Regions from separate parts of the Homo sapiens genome. Here regions 2, 3 and 4 are each reported to be linked to region 1. Evidence: microRNA targets listed by miRTarBase, many of them from high-throughput screens and not tested one by one. Region 1 holds a microRNA gene; each other region holds the end of a gene's coding sequence.
What was found. Region 1 holds the annotated microRNA hsa-miR-6838-5p (AAGCAGCAGUGGCAAGACUCCU, at 1,518-1,539, opposite strand). A microRNA usually pairs through its seed, bases 2 to 8, with sites in the 3' UTR of a target mRNA and lowers its output. Matches are read on the target gene's strand: a 7mer-m8 pairs with bases 2 to 8, a 7mer-A1 pairs with bases 2 to 7 and ends in A, and an 8mer does both.

Region 2: miRTarBase lists LSM11 as a target of hsa-miR-6838-5p. Seed matches in the 3' UTR shown: 8mer at 619-626 and 7mer-m8 at 2,649-2,655.
Region 3: the mRNA of ARMC12 is a reported target of hsa-miR-6838-5p. Seed matches in the 3' UTR shown: 7mer-m8 at 638-644.
Region 4: miRTarBase lists B3GNT2 as a target of hsa-miR-6838-5p. Seed matches in the 3' UTR shown: 7mer-m8 at 1,070-1,076.

Annotation. Positions count from the first base shown.
Region 1 is chr7:44,071,890-44,075,000 of GRCh38, forward strand. MIR6838 (microRNA 6838) reads right to left here and starts at 1,544; the gene lies at 1,489-1,544. POLM (DNA polymerase mu) reads right to left here. Exons shown (of 11, transcript NM_013284.4): 7 at 2,509-2,641; 8 at 2,242-2,344; 9 at 1,894-2,136; 10 at 1,736-1,819; 11 at 173-1,488. The coding sequence ends at 1,402. RefSeq lists enhancers at 2,210-2,409, 2,480-2,549.
Region 2 is chr5:157,754,692-157,757,802 of GRCh38, forward strand. It overlaps LSM11 (LSM11, U7 small nuclear RNA associated), which reads left to right. Exons shown (of 4, transcript NM_173491.4): 4 at 163-3,111. The coding sequence ends at 573. Among named protein-coding and RNA genes, the nearest start is that of LSM11, 13 kb to the left of the region's middle.
Region 3 is chr6:35,748,432-35,751,542 of GRCh38, forward strand. ARMC12 (armadillo repeat containing 12) reads left to right here. Exons shown (of 6, transcript NM_001286574.2): 6 at 107-648. The coding sequence ends at 439. Among named protein-coding and RNA genes, the nearest start is that of ARMC12, 13 kb to the left of the region's middle.
Region 4 is chr2:62,223,257-62,226,256 of GRCh38, forward strand. It overlaps B3GNT2 (UDP-GlcNAc:betaGal beta-1,3-N-acetylglucosaminyltransferase 2), which reads left to right. Exons shown (of 2, transcript NM_006577.6): 2 at 1-1,475. The coding sequence ends at 158. Among named protein-coding and RNA genes, the nearest start is that of MIR5192, 19 kb to the left of the region's middle.

The sequences.
Region 1 (3,111 bases):
CAAAGTGCTAGGATTACAGGCATGAGCCACGGCATCCGGCCACAACCCAGACATTCAACACCTGAATGGATAAACTGTAGAACACCCATGGCATGGAACAAATTACAAACTCAACATACCCAGCAACCTGCAGGAACGTCAAAGGCATTAGGCTGTGGGGAGAGGCCAGTCCAAAGGTTAAATATAGTTTGGTTCTATTTACATGACATTCTAGAGAAAGCAAAACTATAGGGATGTAGCACCGCTAAGTGGGTGGGGGTGGAGAAGCACATGACCACAATAGGACAGCATGGGAAGTGTTCTGGGGATGGACCTGGTGTGCCCTACGTGTGCAAAAACTGCACCCCAAGAGTCAACTTTACTGCATGTTTTCAAAATATTTTTTAATGTGATGAGTGGTCTGGGAAATCCTCGCCTAACAAAGTGGCTTTTGATTCAAGGCCTGAAGAAGGGGAGGGCCCACTCCAGGTAGATGACATGGCCAGGGCAAAACCTGAGGCCAGAGTGTGCCTGGGGATATGAGGGACGTGGAGGGCACCCATGTCCAGCCCACCTCAGTGCTTCTGCCTCAGTGAGAAGGGGAGGGAGTTGGCCACAAGGGGGCCTGGGTGCATCAAATAGGAAGCCGGTGAGTCAAGCAGCTCGGGGCCAGTGGGGCTGGAGAGATGCCAGAGCCAGGGGCTATGTGTGGACTTAGGGTTTGGAACCATTAAAGGGCTCTGCGACGGGAGTGGCAGGATATGACCTATTTTTGAGACATTGTGCTGAGAACAGGCCTTAAAGGCAGAAGCACAGAGCCTGGCTCGGGGCGCTGCAGTACTGAAGCCCCATAGTTGAAAATTATCTTCCTCCCAGCTCCTACCCAGGCCCTCTCCCTCTCCAGATGCCTACAGCACACCAGACAGTAGGCTCCTTGCTGGCACGAACCACAGCCTCCAGCTCATGGCTCTCAAATGCAGTGCAGGTATGCATGGTTCTCTTCTGGGCATTCTGGGCAGGGTGCCCTGCAGGAGCCACAGTTAACTGCAGTGCAACTAATGAGACACTGCACATCAGGGACCACTTGCCATTCATGACTGCAGGCCCCACCACAGCTCCACGATGTGGGCCCCACTCACATCCCATCCAGGGCAGGAACGTGAGCCATGGGGAGGCTAAGAGCAGACCCAGGGTCACACAGTGATGAGGCTGGCACTGAGGGCTCCCACCTCATCACACCCTGCAGCACACCAGCAGGGGCTCAACTGATCCTGCAGGCACAATTGACCTCCGGAAGAGCCAGGCCTTGGCGGGGAGGGGTGAAGGTGGGGGTCAGGGGGCAGCATATCTGCCTGGAGACATTCAGTGGCCAGGTTGGGGGCAGCCCAATTTCCTGAGTGGAAGTGGGGGACACAGGCAGGCTCAGGCGTTTCTCTGCTCTGGAGGAAGGTACTCAAGGCCCAGGTGTCTGAAGATGTCTTCCTCTGAAGCCGCTTGGAAAAATGTCTTCTGCAACAGAAGCAGGACTTCCGTGACCTAGGAGTCTTGCCACTGCTGCTTCCCTGCAGGAAGACTGAGGGTGGGGAAGAGCCCAGCGCCGAGGTGGGGTGTGCTCTTGAGGGCCAGGAACTGTGTGTGGAGACCCAGATTCGGGTCCTATGGGTTTCAGGCTGGAGGGGTCTGGGGCCATTTCAGATTGTGGGTCAGGGAGCGGACTATGGGTGCTGTTTGCTGTCCCCAGTCCCCAACAATGTACCTGCTCCGGGTCAAACAGCCCATGGCTGTTCAGCCACAGGCCCTTCTCCTTCCGGCTGAAGCGGCGCAGCTCCCGCTGGAAAAGCTGTAGGGAAGGGATTGTCCTCAGCAGGGCTGGCCCAGCCCCACCCCCAGGCGGCCCAGCGGCACACTGCCTACCTTGGAGCCAGTCCAACCGAGCAGGGCGAAAGGGAACTGGCTGACGGGTGCAACTACCAAGTCCACTCTCACGGCCTTCCAGGATGGGCAGGGCCTCGTGGATCCCCCCACAGCAGCCCCTGGAGGTTGTGGTAGGCGGAAAATGCAGAAACTTCTCTCAAAAGCGTCCATGTGGCTCTGTTGGGCCAGGCGGGTAGGGGACTCACAGCAGCTGTGCTGGTGCTGGTGGTACAGGATGAGGCCCTGTGGGGAGAGGCGGGCGTGGCTGAGACCATCCGGTGGTGTGGAGAGAGCAGGAGGCAGTGGCATTGGCCAGCGGTGGCTCTTGGGGAGCAGGGAGGCCCTCACCTGGTCCTGCAGGCGGCACATCACTCTAGGCAGCAGCCCCGCCTCCTGACCCTCCTTGGGGTGGGTGATGAGGAAGTCCACGTCATGGCCCTGCAACTTCCCCCTGAGGGCGTCAGTCTGACTCTGACTCAGGGACACGGCCTGCTCACTCCAGCCCCAGGCCACATCCCTTCCAACGAGTGGGCCCGCTTCAGGGTCCCCGACTCAGGTCCCTTCACTGGGGAGGGGTCTGAAGCCAAGCCAGAGGGGCACGTCGGGCCTTCTTACCTGCGGAAGCCGCCGGTCAGCGTGACGGTGGCCCCAGGCAGGGCCTGCCCCACAGCTTCCTCCACCACCTGCTGCAGGGCATCTACATCGGACCGCAGGACTGGGGTGCTCAGGTCCTGGTGGTGCTGGAGCCCTGGGGGCAACACCGGCCCTCCTGACTCACCCAGCCTGCCCACCACACCGAGCCCCCATCCCTCACCAGCATGAGGTGATCAACCTGGGGCCCCGTCATTGCAGGACCAGGAGAGGCCTCCGAGGAAGGTGAGGCTAGGGCAGGGAGCAGAGTGAGATCCCAATCTAAGCCTGACACTATCTTCTCTCCCCCTTTAAATTTTAAACTTTTATTTTGAGACAGTTGTAGATTCACTCGCAGTTAAAAGAAATAGCACAGAGGGAGATCCCATGTGCCTTTTACCCAGCTCCCCCAAAAGGTTAACCCCTTACAAAACTATAATTTTGCAACCAAATATAAGGATACTGATGTTGATACAGTCATGCCACAGGCTATCTCTTTTGATGGCTGTTTTTCCTTATGCATAAAGTGGGACCAAGAGGTGGTAAAAGGATGGAAGATGGCTTTGCCATGACGAACACCTCACTCTG
Region 2 (3,111 bases), not on the chromosome of region 1:
CAAAAAAAAAAAAAAAAAAAAAGATTTATTACTAACTTTTAAAAAATTGCAAAGCAAGGAGTCCACAGAACATAATTAAAGAATTTGGTCTTTTTCTGTATGTTGAAAGAGGGTGATGAAGGCTAAAGAGAAGGCTAATATTTATCATTGTTTGCTTTATAGCTATTTGATCGGCTGAAACTTCAAGATTCCTCCAAGAAGGAAGCAGATTCTAAGTCTGCAGTTGAAGATTCCACTCTGTCTAGATACTCACAGACATCCACTTGGAAGTTGGCTTCAGTGTGGGGAAGAGCAGACACTGGCCGGGGCTCACACAAGCGTTCCCGCTCTGTCCCTTCTTCCCTGCAGGCCTCTGCAAGGGAGGAGTCCAGGTCAGAGCTGTCAGGGAGGACTACACGGACAGACGGCTCCAGTGTGGGAGGTACCTTTTCCAGGGCTACCACCCTTTCCAGAGGCCAGTCCCGTAAGAAAAAGCGAAAGCCCAAAGTGGATTACCAGCAGGTATTCACTCGACACATAAATCAGATTTTCATTCGAGGCGAGAATGTCCTGCTGGTTCATCTTGCACAGTGACCAGCTCAGCCTGAGCTTTGGTTTTTAGAAATAAAGTGCATGAATTGCTGCTATGCTGTATCCTAGTATCCCAGTGAAACTCTGAGTTGGAATGATTCCCTCTGGTCCTGCATATGCAGAGGACGGAGCAGGCTCAGCCCCCTGGAAGATGAGCTCAAGGGGAGGACAGGCCTTGGGAGGGCAGGCGTTTGCATTAATATCAAGGCAAAAAGCATTCATAGATACATGCATCTGATTTGGTATTGTGATTTACTTCAGACCCTGAAACCAAATATCTGATCTTCCATTAGACTTAGGGGTCATGATATGAGTGGAATTTACATTTTAGATACTATAGGGGAAAGAAAAGTCTCAAAAAGAAGTATTGCATGTCTAAAAGCTAGTGCCCTGAGTACTCATGAATTCGATTCCAAGAGTAGTGGTGTAAATTGCCTTGGAGCCCTGCATCCACGTCTTGTAACTAACTTTTGAATTTTGCCTGACATGATTCTCTCTTGATGAAGAAATGACATATATTATCTTTGAATATCTACAAGGAAAGTTACCAACTTATGTAGGGGTGAAATTTGGATAGGCGGTATGCTCAAAGCAGCCAGCAATGAGTGCTCTGTTTTGATCCTTCTTCTTATTATGGAAAGGAGTACAGGACCTCTTCAGTCTTCCCCTTACCAGAGGTAGCCTCTGCAAATGGCATACCAGATGGGACTCTAAGATGCTTGTGTGGTGGCTTCTTGTCCTTCTCTTTGACTTCTGTGGCATGGTGCTAGTGCATGTACCCTGTGGTATTGCCCCTCTGTCCGTAGTGTGAACTGTCCTGTGAGCTTTATGTCAGGAGACTGTGACCTTCATGTCCAGCTTCAAAGAGTTGTGCATGAACTCGGTAATACACATCACACGGCTGAGAGTCCCCTTTCCAGGCAGGGCCAGCATGTGTAGAATATCTTTCAGAATATGGTTTCACCATGAAACAGGGGTGGTAGATTTATTCCCTTGTGTCAGGCCAAAGAAGTTCTTACAAAGTACAGTGGGTAGTGTCTAAAGCGACACTTTACTCACAGCCTGGCTTGAGTCAACAGGAACACCATAGCACCCACAAATACTTCTACTTGAATCATATTCTGTGCTTTTTCAATCACTAGTGCAGAATAGGCTGCATTTGACACAGACTGTTAGGCAATATTGATTTTTTTGTTTTGTTTTTATTTGGTTTTATCTGAGATAACTTATGTTCAAGGTGAGAATAAGAAATAGCCAACTAGTTAAAATGTATGAAAAGAAAACTTTCCCCTGCTGTATTTGTTGTGTAACATAAATAAGCCTTCTGAGAAGCAGGGTGAATAAAGTTTAGGGAGCTGGGACACCTGGTCCTGCTAGCTGGACCACTGGCTCATCATGCAATGAAAAGGTGAGCAGACTTAACCCCTCCGTGCCTCAGCTTTTTCCCCACAGACACCTACCTCACAGGGGCATTGAGAAAAAAAAAATGAAGGCATTTTACAGTCTCTAAACATCTTTAAGTGCCATGAGTAATTTTTCCTGACTCTGTTTCATAGCTTTGTAAGAATTCTGTGTCTTTATAAGACACAGAAGCAAGGCAGGTGCTACATAAAAAAGTAATCTCAGCCAGGCACGGTGGCTCACGCCTGTAATCCCAGCACTTTGGGAGGCTGAGGCGGGTGGATCACAAGGTCAGGAGATCAAGACCATCCTGGCTAACACGGTGAAACCCTGTCTCTACTAAAAATACAAAAATTAGCCGGGCGTGGTGGCGGGCGCCTGTAGTCCCAGCTACGTGGGTGGCTGAGGCAGGAGAATGGGGTGAACCCGGGAGGCGGAGCTTGCAGTGAGCCAAGATTGCACCACTGTACTCCAGCCTGGGCGACAGAGCAAGACTCTGTCTCAAAAAAAGGAAAAAAAAAAAAAGTAATCTTAGGGTTCATAGTTATGATCCTGTTGTAACTATCTTCGGAAGGCAGCAGTATCTTCTGGAACTTCCATATTCCATTCCTTCCTCCTAAGGGACAATGGAAGTTCTCAGAAGAGTATCTTCAGTAAGAGGAGAGTAACTTTTTTTTTGCTGCTCCCGCTATATCCCAGGCCTCACCCTTTTCTGATCATTATCAGAAAGAATCCCCTGAACTTTTCAAGGGGTTTATATGGTAGCACCAAATGGAGAATGAGCATCTAAAAATGACACATCCCGAAAGGGCAATCTGTGGAAGTTTGTTGTTTGTTTGTTTTTATTTTTAAATGCATTGTAAAGTGTACTCTAGAGCCAGATCAGGTGCACTAAAGTTTATAGAGGTTCCAGTTTACAAACTCAAGTGAACAGTAATCTTTGGAAGCTGCCAGTCTAAATTCTAAATAGTGTATCTGAAATCTCAGTTCCCAAAATAGTTGTCAGGTTTAATCATCAGGCAACACTGCGTATACCTGTGTGGCTATCCTCATCTGCCTGCCCTCTCATCCCTCGGCTAGAATGATGTACTCTACTTTCCCAATAAGGTAGAAATTTGGAATCCAACGGAATATAATCAG
Region 3 (3,111 bases), not on the chromosome of region 1:
GAAATTTAGGTATATTTGGGAGTTTAGGCAATAGGAATATACAAGAACAAGAATTTTGTAACTTGCCTAGGAGTTTATTCCCATTCTTTCTCTATTCCCATCACAGGTTCACTCCAACTTCCTAAACCTGTTCCAGCCCACACAGTCAGGGAGTCTCCTGTATGAGGTACTGGTGTTTGCTGAGCGGCTGAGTGAGGGCCGGAACGCACCCCACTACCACGTGGTGAAATGGCATTACAACGAACAGTCCCTGCATGAATCCCTCTTTGGGGAAGAGTCCCGACTGGCAGACCGACTACTTGCCCTGGTCATCCACCCTGAGGAAGATGTTCAGATCCAGGCCTGCAAGGTCATTGTCAGCCTGCAGTATCCCCAGGACTTGAGAGCCCGGCCCTCCTCCTGCCAGCCCAGTCGTTCCTACTTTAAAAACACGGAATAAAATTAAGGAGAGCCAATAAATGAGTATAGGAGAGAAACTTGAAGTTTCTTGAAGCTCGAATGTCTGTTGGTGGCCTTCCAGGGCTGGGTGGAGATTTCATTCAGCATAACCTCTGCTCCAGAGTGTGGTACAGCATGGGCTTATCTCTCAAAACACATCCCCACTTCTATGTTTGGGGGACTAGCTCCCCTCTTCTCTTGCTGCTTTTCTTTCTTTTTTTTTTTTTGAGATGGAGTCTTGCTCTGTTGCCTAGGCTGGAGTGCAATGGCACAATCTTGGCTCACTGCAACCTGCGCCTCCCTGGTTCACGCCATTCTCTTGCCTCAGCCTCCCGAGTAGCTGGGACTACAGGCGCCCGCCACCACGCCCAGCTAATTTTTGTATTTTTAGTAGAGGTGGGGTTCGGCATGTTGGCCAGGCTGGCTCTTGCTGCTTTTCAAATCAATGTGGAGCCATTGCTTTCAGGGGGTTGGAAGAAGGCAGGCTTGGGGATTGAAGCCAAAGATAATCAACAGGACGCAGTATAGCATTAGATTAGTTAGGATGGGCCAGGCTATCCCACAGTAACAACACTCACACCTCAGTGGCTTAAACATGGCAAAGGGGGCCAGGCGCGGTGGCTCACGCCTGTAATCCTAGCACTTTGGGAGGCCGAGGCGGGCAGATCACGAGGTCAGGAGATCGAGACCATCCTGGCTAAAACGGTGAAATCCCGTCTCTACTAAAAATACAAAAAATTAGCCGGGCGTGGTAGCAGGCGCCTGTAGTCCCAGCTACTCAGGAGGCTGAGGCAGGAGAATGGCGTGAACCCAGGAGGCGGAGCTTGCAGTGAACCGAGATTGCGCCACTGCACTCCAGCCTGGGCGACAAAGCGAGACTCCGTCTCAAGAAAAAAAAAACATGGCAAATGTTAATTCTTGTTTACACTGCATGCCCATTGCAGATCAGCGGTGGGGGTGGAAGGGCAGGCCTCTACTCCACAACATCCTCACACAGAGACCCAGGTTGAGGGAGGCTTCCTCATTGTGTTTCTACAACTATTACAGAAGGACAGGGAATGTGGTAGTGATAAATGTCATCACTTCTGCTCACATCTCATTAGCCAAAGGGGATGAGGAAGATCATTCTTTCCACGTGTCCAAGGAAGAACTGTTGATCCTTGGTGACAGCATGAATGACAGAGATCTGCAGGCATACTGGGTCAGAAAGGGAGCTCTGGAATCAGAGTGCTCGCTTCCAGTCCCAGCTCTGTCACTTACTGTGTGACCTCAGGGGAGCAGTTAACCCTATTTGAGCTTCAGGCCCCTCATCTATAAAATGCATATAATAATAGTACTGATTTCATGACGCTGTTGGGAAAATGAAAGGGGGATTATATGAGTTAACGAACGTAAGCCACAGTGTTCTGCATGCATTCCTCAAAGATGGGCTCTGAGGAGCTATGAAATCATCACTGAGAAAGCCGGGCAGAGTGGCTCACGCCTGTAATCCCAGCACTTTGGGAGGCTGAGGCGGGAGGATCACCCGAGGTCGGGAGTTCGAGACCAGCCTGACCAACACGGAGAAACCCCGTCTCTACTAAAAATACAAAACTAGCCAGATGTGGTGGCGGGCACCTGTAATCCCAGCTACTTGGGAAGCTGAGGCAGGAGAATTGCTTGAACCCGGGAGGCAGAGGTTGCGGTGAGCTGAGATCACGCTATTGCACTCCAGCCTCAGAGACAGAGGTGCGAGACTCCATCTCAAAAAAAAAAAGAAATCATCACTGAGAAAACAAAAGATCATCACTGGGGAGGTCCTTGGAGAGTGTTGCCTCCAGCATTTCTCCAGTCTCTTCAGGTTATGGGCACTGGGGAGTCCTAGAGTCCTCTATGAAGCGTGCTGAAAAGTCATTGAAACTTAGCTTTGGAAACCAGAACAATGGTGTGAGTAATATAACACCATAACCATGAAGTTTCCAGAAACAAGAAGACTGTCAAACCAAATATGGTCATCCATTTTCCAATTCCCCATTCATTTGCGTTTCCCAGTTGTTCCTTCATTGTTTTTTTTGTTTTTTTGAGACGGAGTCTCGCTCTGTCGCCAGGCTGGAGTACAGTGGTACAATCTCAGCTCACTGCATCCTCTGCCTCCCGGGTTCAAGCAATTCTCCTGCCTCAGCCTCCCGAGTAGCTGGGACTACAGGAGCGCGCCACAACACCCAGCTAATTTTTTGTATTTTTTAGTAGAGAAGGGGTTTCACCATGTTGGCCAGGATGGTCTCGATCTCCTGACCTCGTGATCCCCCCACCTTGGCCTCCCAAAGTGCTAGGGTTACAGGTGTGAGCCACCACGCCCAGCCCTCATTCACTGTTTTATCTGTGAATCCTTGCTGGGAAACAGTAAGGATTGCTAACGGTTTAAGAAAATGCTACGGGAGAGAAACCTAATGTTGGAGCTATTCCCAGCCTGAGACTGCTCGATCTAGGACAAAGAACCTGGTCCAGCCACGGGCTCCCGGTGTTCTTCAGAAGCAGGATTTGAAAACTAGTCTCGTCCAGGACCAACCCTGGCATTTTCCTGAAAGGAAAACAAACCCAAAATGGAAAAGTGACTTGCTCAAGGTCACATGACTGGTCTAGGGCAGAAATAGGATTAGAACCTCCTACTACTGAGCTTTTCTTTTGCCCTCA
Region 4 (3,000 bases), not on the chromosome of region 1:
TTCCAGAGAAACACAAAGGCTTCAGGACATTTGATATCGAGGAGAAAAACAAAAATAACATCTGCTCCTATGTAGATCTGATGTTAGTACATAGTAGAAAACCTCAAGAGATGATTGATATTTGGTCTCAGTTGCAGAGTGCTCATTTAAAATGCTAAAATAGATACAAACTCAATTTTGCATAGAAAGGTGTATTTTGAATAGTTCCCATGTTGTGTTCTCACATTAGAGTAATTTCTATATTAAACCATGAAAATTGCCTTTATGAGTGATACCCATTTGAGGGCCTCTAAACCCTTCAATTTGGTACTCACGTGAAGAGGGAAAGCGGAAGATGGTAATTTTTTTTTATGGATGATATGGCAGGATGATTGGTTCTGATCTTACCGGCTAGTGGTCATTTTTAAAAAACTTGTACCCTCTTATCTGAAATCCTGTTTCTGGAATTTGGCCATTTTAAGTGATTTTGTTTGCCCTCTTCTATAATATTCCTACTTCCCATAATAATGACTGATTTATTTGTAATTCAGGTATTTATAAACCTATTGGCTACAAAGACTTTGTTAAACATTATCCAGTGGTTTTCGTGAAATGGAATTATGTTTATTTTTATGGGATTTGGGTAAATTTTAAATTGTCTAGAAAACTGAAATTTCAGTTGTCAGTTGTGGAATTCAGTTTTTCAATTGTGGAAATTTCCTGCCACCCCAACAGTATTTTTGTGTGTTAATTAATTTTGCAAAATGAGAATCATGGTGTGACACTCATCTAATTTATCTTGTTGTGATGTTATGGTCATAATAAGGAGAAAGAGGGTTTAATTTTTCTTGTATTTGGTTTCCTGGTGGTATCATAGTGTAATTTTAGTATTTGAAAATCAGTGTGATTCCTTAATGGCCAACTGAAGATTGAATTGCCGCTAACAACCATATCGTGTTAGTGAATTTTCAATATGGACCAGGAAGGCATATGTATTTTGAACTTGAGTGAAAAGGTTGAAGTTACAGACTTTTGCATAGATGGTTTGTCAATTTAAAATTCCAGAATTTATTATTGCCATATTTTCACATGCTGCTTATACAAGATTATTATTGAGTAGTAACTGCTTCCCTGTCTATGTAGAAGTGCCTGTGTTTTTATTTATTGTTCAGATCAAAGACCAAAACATTTTCTTAAATATATTTTATGTAATATTTTATTTGTATACAGTGTTGTTGATGAAATATTTAACTAGAGCATGATATTTTAAATGTTAAGGTGTAACATATGTTAAATAAAACTGTTATTTTTGAATTTTAAAATTTGTTTTTTGGGGGTATGAACTACTAGAGTTTAAAATTCTGCCAAACTATTACTTATATGTACTATTGTGTAACATACTTTCTTGAAATATTTTTGTTTATAGAATTGAAGGTTCTTATCAGATGGGATACTGGGGACTATAAACAATGGAAATAAAGCCACTGTATTTTTAATTTTTTGTGTAATGTGTAATCTATAATCCTTTTGTTTCCCATATTTGAGAACATTTTTCCCTGAAAGAGGCCAGTTTCCTCCCCAGAAACCATTACAGTAGTGTTGAACTATCACTGTCTCTCAGTGCGTCATCCATCTTTGCATTTAAAATCCCCAAAGTGCTTTCCCATTTAAAGTCTTTAAAGAAAAGTGAGAATATTTATTTATGCTTCCATTTTCAGTGAGTATAAATAATTTAATTAGGGAGTGGTGTGGCATTGTAAAGATTGTGTTATCCTAAGCCATTTCTATTTTGGAGTTTGTAGCCACAAAGATGAAATATAGAATCAGCCTTGACTACTCAATTTCCTTTCATAGACCCATGTTGAGAAGACACTACTAACGTCCAGTGGGAAACAAGTAGACAATTGATGAAGCTCAAAAAACAGAAGGGTTAGTGTTGTAAGAGCAAACAGTCTAATCCTGTTTGGAATGTGGAAGCCATTTCTGAGCAAGTATGAGGACACAGGTGCTTGATTTGAGATTGAAGACTGTTTTCAGCCTGGTCTTCCTGAAGGTTTCCTGGGGCCTGCATCTGCCTTCTACTCCCATGGCTGCTAGCACACACCTCCCAGAGGGCCATATTGCCACATTATGGCTAGAGAAGAGTAAAGAAGAAAAGAAGCTCTGAGAACATTCACAGGTAATTGGATCACATTTGCATTTGTCCAAAAAACCTGACCACGCATTCTCAGGTAATAGGTTTCTCCTCTCAGAGGAATTTCAATTTTTTTTCTTGTTAGAGATTCCCCTTCTCTGAGGTTTCAAGTCTCTTGTAGAGAAAGAAGAGATGGAGCAGGTTTTGAATGAGGTGTGGAGGGCCACTGGGGGGCCTTTTGTGAGCCTTCAGTCCACATGTGTGCTGTTGTTTGAACATGAGTTCTTGGTGCTGATGACATTTGGATGAGATGATCTCTGGCCCTTCTTCATTTGGCAGAAGTTCTTGTGCAATGGCTGCCCAAGCCCACCACACTGGTCATTGCTGCCCTGTGAGATGGACCTCATGGGCTTTTTAGCAGAGCACGTTAGGTTTTAGAGCTTTACGCATGCTTGGGCTCTGTTATGGCGCAAACCCTTAAATCCAGGAAGGCCTCTCTTGGTGCCCACAATATGGGTTCTCACCTGATCCCCCATCTCACGGATGGAACTGCTGTAAGTCTAACTTATTCTTTGAGAACTGTTTAACAATTAGGCCTCAAGGGAAACTGGTATTTTGGGCCCTTTTCTTGGCTATTCCCAAGTCATGTTGATTTTGAGTTTGAAGGTCAAAAAGGCTGAAAGCATTGCCAGGGTTTGGACTATTCAAAAACCCAAGCAGGTCTTAAAAAAAGGATGCAAGAGACAAGAATGGCTCATTCCCCTTCCTGATCCTGGTTATACCCATGTCCTTTCTTGAGATGGTCAAGAGAGGCTGGAAAGAAGAACAGGAAATTGGGGGAGTGCTTTGTTACACTTGGAAATTGAGTCAAGAATTAAAGACACCCA